Linked DNA regions of Homo sapiens: region 1 is linked to region 2. Evidence: fine-mapped expression QTL. A gene starts in region 2. The other region holds a variant in brackets. All regions are shown on one strand. Distances are from middle to middle.

Region 1 (4,394 bases), 730 kb after region 2:
GAAACATCTGGGAATTCAAGAAAAAAAGTGGAAAGAGCACTGGATTCAGATTTAGAAGACCTGGATTGGAATTTAGGGGCCTCAGAGCCATTCTGCACATCAGTCTCCACATCTGCAAAATGGGGTTCACATAGCTTACCTCATTGGGCTAAGGACTAAATGAAATTATACTTATTCAGGTATTTGGTTCCTGTTAGTGGCCTCTGAAATAGGCTGGGATGAAAGTGGTTGGGCTTGGCATGTTGGGAGCATTGGCAGACAAGTGCAAACAGCACTTTGAGCAAGAATCTAGCAAAACAAAACAAACCAAAACAAAACACCCCTCTGGGTTGCCCTTGGCTTAGTCCCACCCTCTTTTGCGTCGCCCTCGCCCAGCTTACGTGCATTGTCCGATATCCCGTCAGGTTCCCAAAACAGAGCTCTGTGCACAGTTGCGGGTGGACAATAAAATTTGCTAACAATTATTTCCTGGCTGTGGCCACTTGTACTTAGTTCCAGCCGGCAAGAGATAATTTGGTGCTGAATTGCACAGGTGGTCCCTGCATTACCCCATCTCCCCACAATGTATCTCTAGAAAAACCACCATAAAGTTGACTGTCAACCAGCACTGATGTTTGTGTGCTTCAACATGATTGACAAAAAGAGAAGGTTTGACATTGGCCAGTGAGGGAATGGTGACATTTGATGGATCAGGCAGTGAAGCTTTAGACAGTCGACTCTCATTTTCTGATAACTTCCTGTGTGATTATTTGCCATATCTCCCCAGGTAGACAGACTGTGGCCTCCCTGTGGACATTCCGCTTTGTGAGTGCTCTCTATTGGTTATAACTTGCAGGTGGGTTGCTTCCTCATGCTTTTGGCTGTACCCGTAGAAAGGATGGGACAAGGGGAGGAGCCCCTAATTCCTTAAGCAGTGAGAAGGTCTGCGTTAAGGCCAGTTTGGCTTTTCTCGACCTCTGGAATAAGCAAATGGGACTCCAGTTGCTGGTCTGCCTGCAAGTGACATTGTCCGGACCTCAGTGATTGCATTTGTGAAATGTTCACCCAGAAATGGGTTTGAAATGTTGAGAAAGGCCATCGAACACCACACAAGTGTGGGGCATCATTAGTCTTTGTGCTAATGCTTTCTGCCAGAACTGGTACTTCTTTATGAAGCTACCAGCAGAGAAAGGAGAGAAAAAAGTGGAGACAGAGAGACAGGGAGACAGACAGAGACAGAGGGAAAATACATTTATCTGGGGAGAAAAAAGCATTGCCATTTGTTATGGGCTGTATTATGCCTCCCCTGGCCCCCCACCAAATTCATATGCTGAAGTCCAAACCTTCAGTACCTCGGAATATGACTGTATTTGGGGACAGGGCCTTTAAATAGGTAATTAAGTTAGAATGAGGTTGGTAAGGTGTGCCCTAATTCAATATGACTGGTGTCTTTGTAAGAAGAGGAGATTAGGAACAGGCGACACAGTGAGAAGGTGACTAAGTGAGGACACAGTGAGACGGTGGCCATCTACAAGCCAAAGAGCGAGGCCTCAGAAGAAACTCAATCCGCCGACACCTTGATCTTGGGCTTCTAGTCAGAAGTGTGAGAAAATAGATTTCTGTTGATTAAGCCACCCAGTCTGTGGTATTGTGTTATGGCAGCCCCAGCAAACGAATACACCATTTATGTTTTGCATTCAGAACCAATAAATAATTCTTTCAGAAGACAAATCTCTTGACCATTCTCAAAATATCAAAAGCATTTCTTCAAAAATTAAAAACTGTTTTTATCCTTAAAACTTGGGGATACCTCTTTGCCTTATTTCTGAATGTAAATATATTTAAAAACTGTAAACGTTATAGTAACAATAAAAAGGAAACAAGCACGAAAAATAAAAGCCTTTTAACCAAGGCTTCAACTTTTTTCCCCCT[GTCTA/A]TCTGAAGCTTTGTGCCCTTTGACCAACATTCCTCTCTCCTCCCATCAGGCTCTGGCAACCACCGTTCTATTCTGCTTCTATGGAGTGTGACTTCTTTAGATTCCGCATATAAGTGAGATCCTGCGGTATTTGTCTTTCTGGTGCCTGACATTTCACTTAGCATAATGTCATCCAGGTTCATCCTTGTTGTTGCAAATGACAGGATTTCCTTCTTTTTTTTAAGCCGAACAGCATTCCATTGTATGCCCACATTTTCTTTATCCCTTTGTCTGTTGATGGACATTTAGGTTGCTTCCACTTCTCGGTTATTGTGAATAATGCTGCAATGAACACGAAACTGCAGATACCTCTTTGACATGCTGAGTTATTTTCCTTTGGGTATATACCTAGAAGTGGGATTGTTGGATCATAGGGTTGTTCTATTTTTAACTTTTTGAGGAACTTCCGTACTGTTCTCCGTAATGGCTGGACTAATTTACATTTCCACCAAGCGTGCAAGGTTCCCTTTTCTCCTTATCCTTCCCAATGCTTATCTTTTTTGAGAATGGCTGTTCTAGTAAGTGAGAGGCGATACCCAATTGTGGTTTTGATTTGCATTTCCTTGATGATTAGTGATGTTGAGCATTTTTTCATATACCTGTTGGCCATTTGTATATCTTCTTTTGAGAAATGTCTGTTCGGGTGCTTTGCCCGTTTTAAAACTGTGTTGTTTTTTTCTTGAGTTCCTTATATATTTTATTATATTTACCCCCTTATTAGATTTGCACTTTGCTAATATTTTCTCTCTAAACTTAAACGTTTAGTTAAGACCAAGTTTAAGTGCTCAAGCATTAAGGATCATGCCCTTAACTTGTAGGAGAGGCTGCCCTTCAGCCTGTGCCAGCTCTCATTTTATATACCATTCCAACGAGTCTAGTGAAAATTAAGAACACTTCATTAGAAGGGGTTAGGCTGCTGCAGAGGGGAGATGTACGATCATAAAAGACAGACTGTACTGTCAGTCTGGACAGTGAGGAAAGAGCCTATAAATCTATGAAAAGTAGACACAGGAATTAAGAATGAGGCCATTTGGGGTGGGACTTTGCTGGATTACAGCACTATTCTTAATGACCATCATCCCTTATTTTATTTTTTAAATTTTATTTATTTTTTAGAGACAAGGTCTTGCTCTGCCGCCCAGGCCGGAGTGCAGTGGCATGGTCAGAGCTCACTGCAGCCTCGAACTCCTGGGCTCAAGCAATCCTCCCATCTCAGCCTCTCAAGTAGTTGAGACTATAGGCGTGTGCTACCGCACTAGGCTAATTTTTCTGTTGTAATTATTTTTTTTTTTATAGAGACAGGGTCTTGCTATGCTGCCCAGGCTGGTCTCGAATTCCTGGACTCAAGCAATCCTCTCACCTCAGCCTCCCAAATTGCTGGGACTACAGGCACATGCCATCATGCTCAGCTACCCCTTATTTTTAAAAAGTTAAAGTCCAGTGCTATTTAAGAAATCACAGAAGACTATTACATGTTATACCTTCTCTAAGTATGGTGAACGAATGTTCTGGAATTGTGTAAGACAGCAGAATAGTGTGAATGCAAGAACTTCTCTCCATGTAGGCTAGAAATACAAATGTAAATTCTCATAGTTTTTTTTTTTTCCTACTATAAGTAAGTATACAGATGTAAATTTTCACAATAATCTTGTTATTCAAAATTTGTAAATGAGTGATTTGCAGGCAGGCAGACTCTCTTTCTTACTTTATCCATGAAATCTTTCATAAATGAGATAAATGATGACCAAAGCTGACTATACTTCCTGCCGAAAAAAAGGCAAAGGCAACAGGTGCAGTCCCCTCAGTGGTCCTCATGCAATTGCCCAGGCTGCTTGTTTGTCTTTGCAAAGAGGCTGGAAGATTTTAATTTTTCCACAAATAGGATACTGATTGTTTCAACCTACTAAGACTACTGCTTTATCTTGTCTTTTAGTTAAAAATATTTATTTCCAGATTATGAATGTATTTTATGCTTACTGGAGAAAATTGGGAGAAATACAGAAAAACAAAATAAAAAATCACCTTGCGATCCTGCCACTCTTTACTACTCAAGTTTGCTCTGCCTTTTGTAAATTCAAAGTTACACCATAAACATTTTCTACTAAAAACTCCTTGTAAACAGTTTTCAGTGCCACTGATATTTTTGTGTGCACAACTTTTCTCCATCACGTATTTTTAGAAAGACAACATGTTAACTGATCTTCGATTTAATGACCAATCTAGCAACCACGGTTCAGCACAGCTTGAGAAGTGTATCTGTTAAAAATACAAAGTGGAGTCATTAATAATGGTGTTAGCCGATTCTGATTCTGAATAATCTTGGGAGGGGATATTGGGAGTACATTAATTTCTAAAGGCTCATTGAGTAGATGTAAGTACTTACTTCGGCTTTCTCCTACTGTTAGGGTTTTAGGCTGACTCCAGTTGTTTTCCCTGGATT
Region 2 (4,394 bases):
GAAATCAGAGGTTCTAGTATTCTCTAGGTTTAAAAATAAAATGATTTCCTCTTGATTATGTGACCTAAATTTGGTTCAGAACATATTTGCCAAAAGCTATACAAAAAAAGAATTAGATAAGTCATTTTTAGCTTAAAAAATGATGCTTTGTATGAACCAGCCCTCATTTTCAACATTCTGGAATTTTATTAATCTCATTCCCTGCTTCTGTTTTAAAACTGTTTTTTTTTAATTGCCAGAACAAACATTCACAAAACTGATACTTTAAATAAAACTGTAACTAAGCATAGAAGTATAGAAGTAACCCAGCTTTTCCCCTCTTTGGGGTTTTGTGTTATTTTATTGCTCATATAAATACAATATACACGTGGCTCTGTCTCGGTGGAAATCTGAAAAAACAGATCTTGCAGTCCAGAAACTGAAAACAAAGTTTAAAAACAAAAACCTTCTACCTCAAGAGTCTAGGATATGCCATGAATCTATTTTTGTAGTAATTTTAAAAAACACAATATATTCCTTTTAAAATCTTTCTCAGAGAAAGTAGAAACTGGGCTTTGAGAGGGCTCTTTTAGCCAAACCCTGTGAGGACCCACCAAGCTAGAGCCTCTTTATCTAGTGACAGGGAATCTAACCATTCTTAAAACTTGTGGGTCCTCGGAGTGAGAACCCATAGGATAGAGAACTGCAATTTGTGGCTATTTTTAGCCAGCAATCACAGAGAGAACTTAAGCAGCCATTAAAAGGAGGCAGTGAACTGTGTTAAATTCTAGATGAAAGAGAGAAACAGCGGAGAGGGCCAATCCTGATGACTCACGGTGCACGAGTTCCCCTTTAAGCAGGGATGTGTCCTTGCAAGGAGTCCCTGCCCTTCCCTGGCCTCAATTTCATCCTCTTTAAAAGGAACTAGTCAGCTGGGTGCAATGGCTCACGACTGTAATCCCAGAACTCTGGGAGGCGAGGTGGGAGGATCACTTGAGTCCGGGAGTTCGAGATCAGCCTGGGCAACGTGGCGAAACTCTGTCTCTACAGAAAATACCAAAAAATTAGCTAGGTGTGGTGGCGCGCGCCTATAATCCCAGCTACTCAGGAGGCTGAGGTGGAGGATCACCTGAGCCTGAGGAGGTCAAGGCTGCAGTGAGCCATGATAGCGCCTCTGCACTCCAGCCTGGGCGACTGTGAGACCCTGTCTCAACAAAAAATAAAAATAAAAGGTACTTGTCGGCTCCTCAGGTCTTCTGCTTTATTATCGCAAGTCACCGCTCACTTGAGAAAAAAGGCGACTTTAATGGTATATACAGAAAAGAGGCGTCTGCCCTCAAATAACAGAGAACATTTATCAGGCACTTTGTTGGGTGCCTGGCGCTGTACTGCGTTCTGTGTACGTATTCTCTACCTTAGAGTTACCCTTCAAGAAAGGCATTTTCATCTCTAGTTGAGATGAAGAAGGAGACAGGACTTGGAGGAGACCTTTGGCAGGGCTGGATGGGAGGGAGCCAGGTCTAGAACTGGAGGGGCAACGCGGCCCCGGGCGCAGGGGCGGGGCTAGGGCCTGGAGGCTGGGTCAGGGGCGGGGCCGGGGCCTGGGACGGGGCGAGGCGGACTTGCCTTGAAGTAAGCGAACTGCAGGAACTTGTAGGGCTCGCGGCGCTGGAAGTCCGCCAGCACCTCGCGGCTGGGCTGGGACTGGCGGAAGGCTGGCAGGCCCTGCTTGCAGCGCTTGAGGCAGTGCGCGCGGCGCAGCAGGCCCCCGAAGAGGCGCAGCTCGGGATAGCTGGCGAGGCCGGCGGCGGGCTCGGGCTGCGGCGCGGCGCTGCAGTTGCGGTGGCAGAAGGCCTCGCTGTCGCGCAGCAAGCGGTGCAGCCGCAGGCTGATCTCCAGGTAGCCCACGCTCTCGGCCCAGTGCTCGCCGCTGTACTTGTCCAGCGCGTGCCGGTAGGCCGACTCGAGCGGCATCAGCTCGTCCCGTGGGAAGCTGCGGAAGCTGTAGCGTTCGTATTGGGCGCGCCCGGCGCGCAGCGCGCAGGCCACGCACAGCAGCGCTAGCAGCGCCGCGGCCCCCCGGCGCCCCGGCTCCATCGCGCCCGGCGAAAGGAAGGAAGGAAGGGACGAAGGAAGGGAAAAGGGGAGGGAGAAGGAAAGGAAAGAGGACGGTGCGACGCGGCGGGCCCAGTGCTTTCGGGGCGGGGACGCCAGCCTCCGGCCCGCCCCGTCCGGCCGCCCCTCCCCACCCAGCCGGGGGATCTGGGCGCCAGCTGCCAGCACCTAGAGGGTGCCCGGGAAAGGCGCGCTGCGCACTGGTTCACGCAGGCTGATGCGCATGATGGGACTCTGCCGCTCATTCACTTGGAGACCCGCCTGCAAGGCCGACGCGGCCCTAATAGATTATATACATCGGCCCTACGGTCTATATAATCTACGATCTTTATATTCGTTTGGAGGTTTGTGAAAACGAAGATTCCTGGGCTGTGCCCCCAGAGTTTCTGATTCAGAAAGTCTGGGGTGGAGGTCTGACGATTTGTGTGTTTAACCAGCACCCTGATGAGGCTAATGCTGCGGGCCCAAGGGCCGCACTTTTAATAGCACTGCCCAACCTTAAATTTTAGTGAGAGAAAAAGACAGTGCAAAAATAAAATTAATAAGGATGTCAGCACTTTGTAAACTGTATAGCTAGTCAGGTTGAAGATGTGCACACCTTATGAATCTGCAACACCATTCGGTGGAATATGCTGGAGAAGCTTGCGCGTGTGCATCAAAAAATATGGATGGAATGTTAATGGCAGCACTTTTAAAAAATCTTTAAACTTTTAAATCTTGAAATAATTTACAAGAAAGCTGCAAAAACAGTACAAAAAGTTCCTATATACCCTTCATCAAGATTCACAAGTTGCTAACGTTATACCACATTTCTATCTTTACATTTTTTTCTGACTCATTTGAGATAGGTTGCATGTATCAGGCCCACTGTCCGTTAGTCTTTTTTTTTTCTTTTTTTTTTTCCTTTTTTTTTTTTTGAGACGGAGTCTCGCCCTGTCACCCAGGCTGGAGTGCAGTGGCGCGATCTCGGCTCACTGCAACCTCCGCCTCCCGGGTTCAAGCAATTCTCCCTGCCTTAGCCTCCCGAGTAGCTGGGATCATAGGCACACACCACCATACCTGGCTAATTTTTCTATTTTTTACTAGAGATGAGGTTTTGCCATGTTGGCCAGGCTGTTCTTGAACTCCTGACCTTAGGTGATCTACCTGCCTCTGCCTCCCAAAGTGCTGGGATTACAGGCGTGAGCCACCGTGCCCAACCCCTTAGTCTTTCAGTATGTATGTCCTAAGAATGAAACTACCAGACAATCAAATTTAGGAAATTTAATACTGATAGAAGACTTTAATCATGTTCCATTTCCGGTTATGTCAGCTGTTCCAATTATGTCTTTCATGGCACTTTTTTCTCTTAGGATGCAGTCCATCCGTGATCACTGTTACATCTAGTCTATTTCATATCCTTTAAACTGGTTCCTCGGCTTTTCTTGTCATGCCGTTGTCATTTTTGAAAAATATAGGCCAAAACAGCAATGAGATACCACTACAAAATCCAAAACACTGACAACGTCACATGCTGACAAGGATGTGGAGCAACAGGAACTCTCATTCATTGATAGTGGCAATGCAAAATGGTACATACAGTTTAGAAGACAGTTGGGCCGTTTCTTACAAAACTAGGCATACTCTACTCATACAATCCAGAAATTGCACTTCTTGGTATTTACCCAAATGGGTTAAAACTTATGCACACACCTGCGAATGGATGTTTGTAGCAACTTTATTCACAATTACCATAACTTGGAATCAACCAAGATGTCCTTCAGTGGGTAAGTGGATACATAAACTGTGGTATATACACACAATGGAATTTTATTCCAAGCCAAAAAGAAATGAGCTATCAAGCCATGAAAAGACATGGAGAAGTCTTAAATGCATATTACTGGTTGAAAGAAGCCAAACTGAAAAGGCTACATACTGTGTGATTCCAGCCAAATGACATTCTGGAAAAGGCAAAACTATGGAGACAGTAAAAGGATCAGTGGTTGCTGAGAATTATGGAAAGGGAGGAATGAATGGGTAGAGGACAGGATTATTGGAGCAGTGAAACTATTCTATATGATAGTATAATGGTGGATATATGCTATACATTTGTTAAAATCCATAATATGTACAACACTAAGAGTGAGCCCTAATGTAAACCGGACTTTGGGTGATAACGATGTGTTGATGTAGGTTCATTGATTGTAACAAATGTACCATTCTAGTGCAAGACATTGACAGTGGGGGAGCTTGCGCATGTTGTAGGGTCATGGAGTATATTTGAACTCTGTAGTTTCCGCTCAGTTTCGCTATGAATCTAA

Evidence for each region. PIP is the estimated chance that this variant, and not a neighbour inherited with it, causes the effect.
Region 1: its variant is the best candidate, but not a certain one, in a credible set for the expression of CRTAP in skeletal muscle (GTEx, PIP 0.58).

The regions. Positions count from the first base shown.
Region 1 is chr3:32,377,991-32,382,384 of GRCh38, reverse strand. It overlaps LOC124909361 (a long non-coding RNA gene), which reads right to left. Exons shown (of 2, transcript XR_007095859.1): 1 at 4,338-4,394; 2 at 3,882-4,210. Among named protein-coding and RNA genes, the nearest start is that of CMTM7, 12 kb to the left of the region's middle. The variant GTCTA/A (reference allele first, on the strand shown) is at 1,912.
Region 2 is chr3:33,111,760-33,116,153 of GRCh38, reverse strand. CRTAP (cartilage associated protein) reads right to left here and starts at 2,140. Exons shown (of 7, transcript NM_006371.5): 1 at 1,606-2,140. The coding sequence starts at 2,076. RefSeq lists enhancers at 438-1,429, 4,310-4,394 and silencers at 1,381-1,570, 2,011-2,310.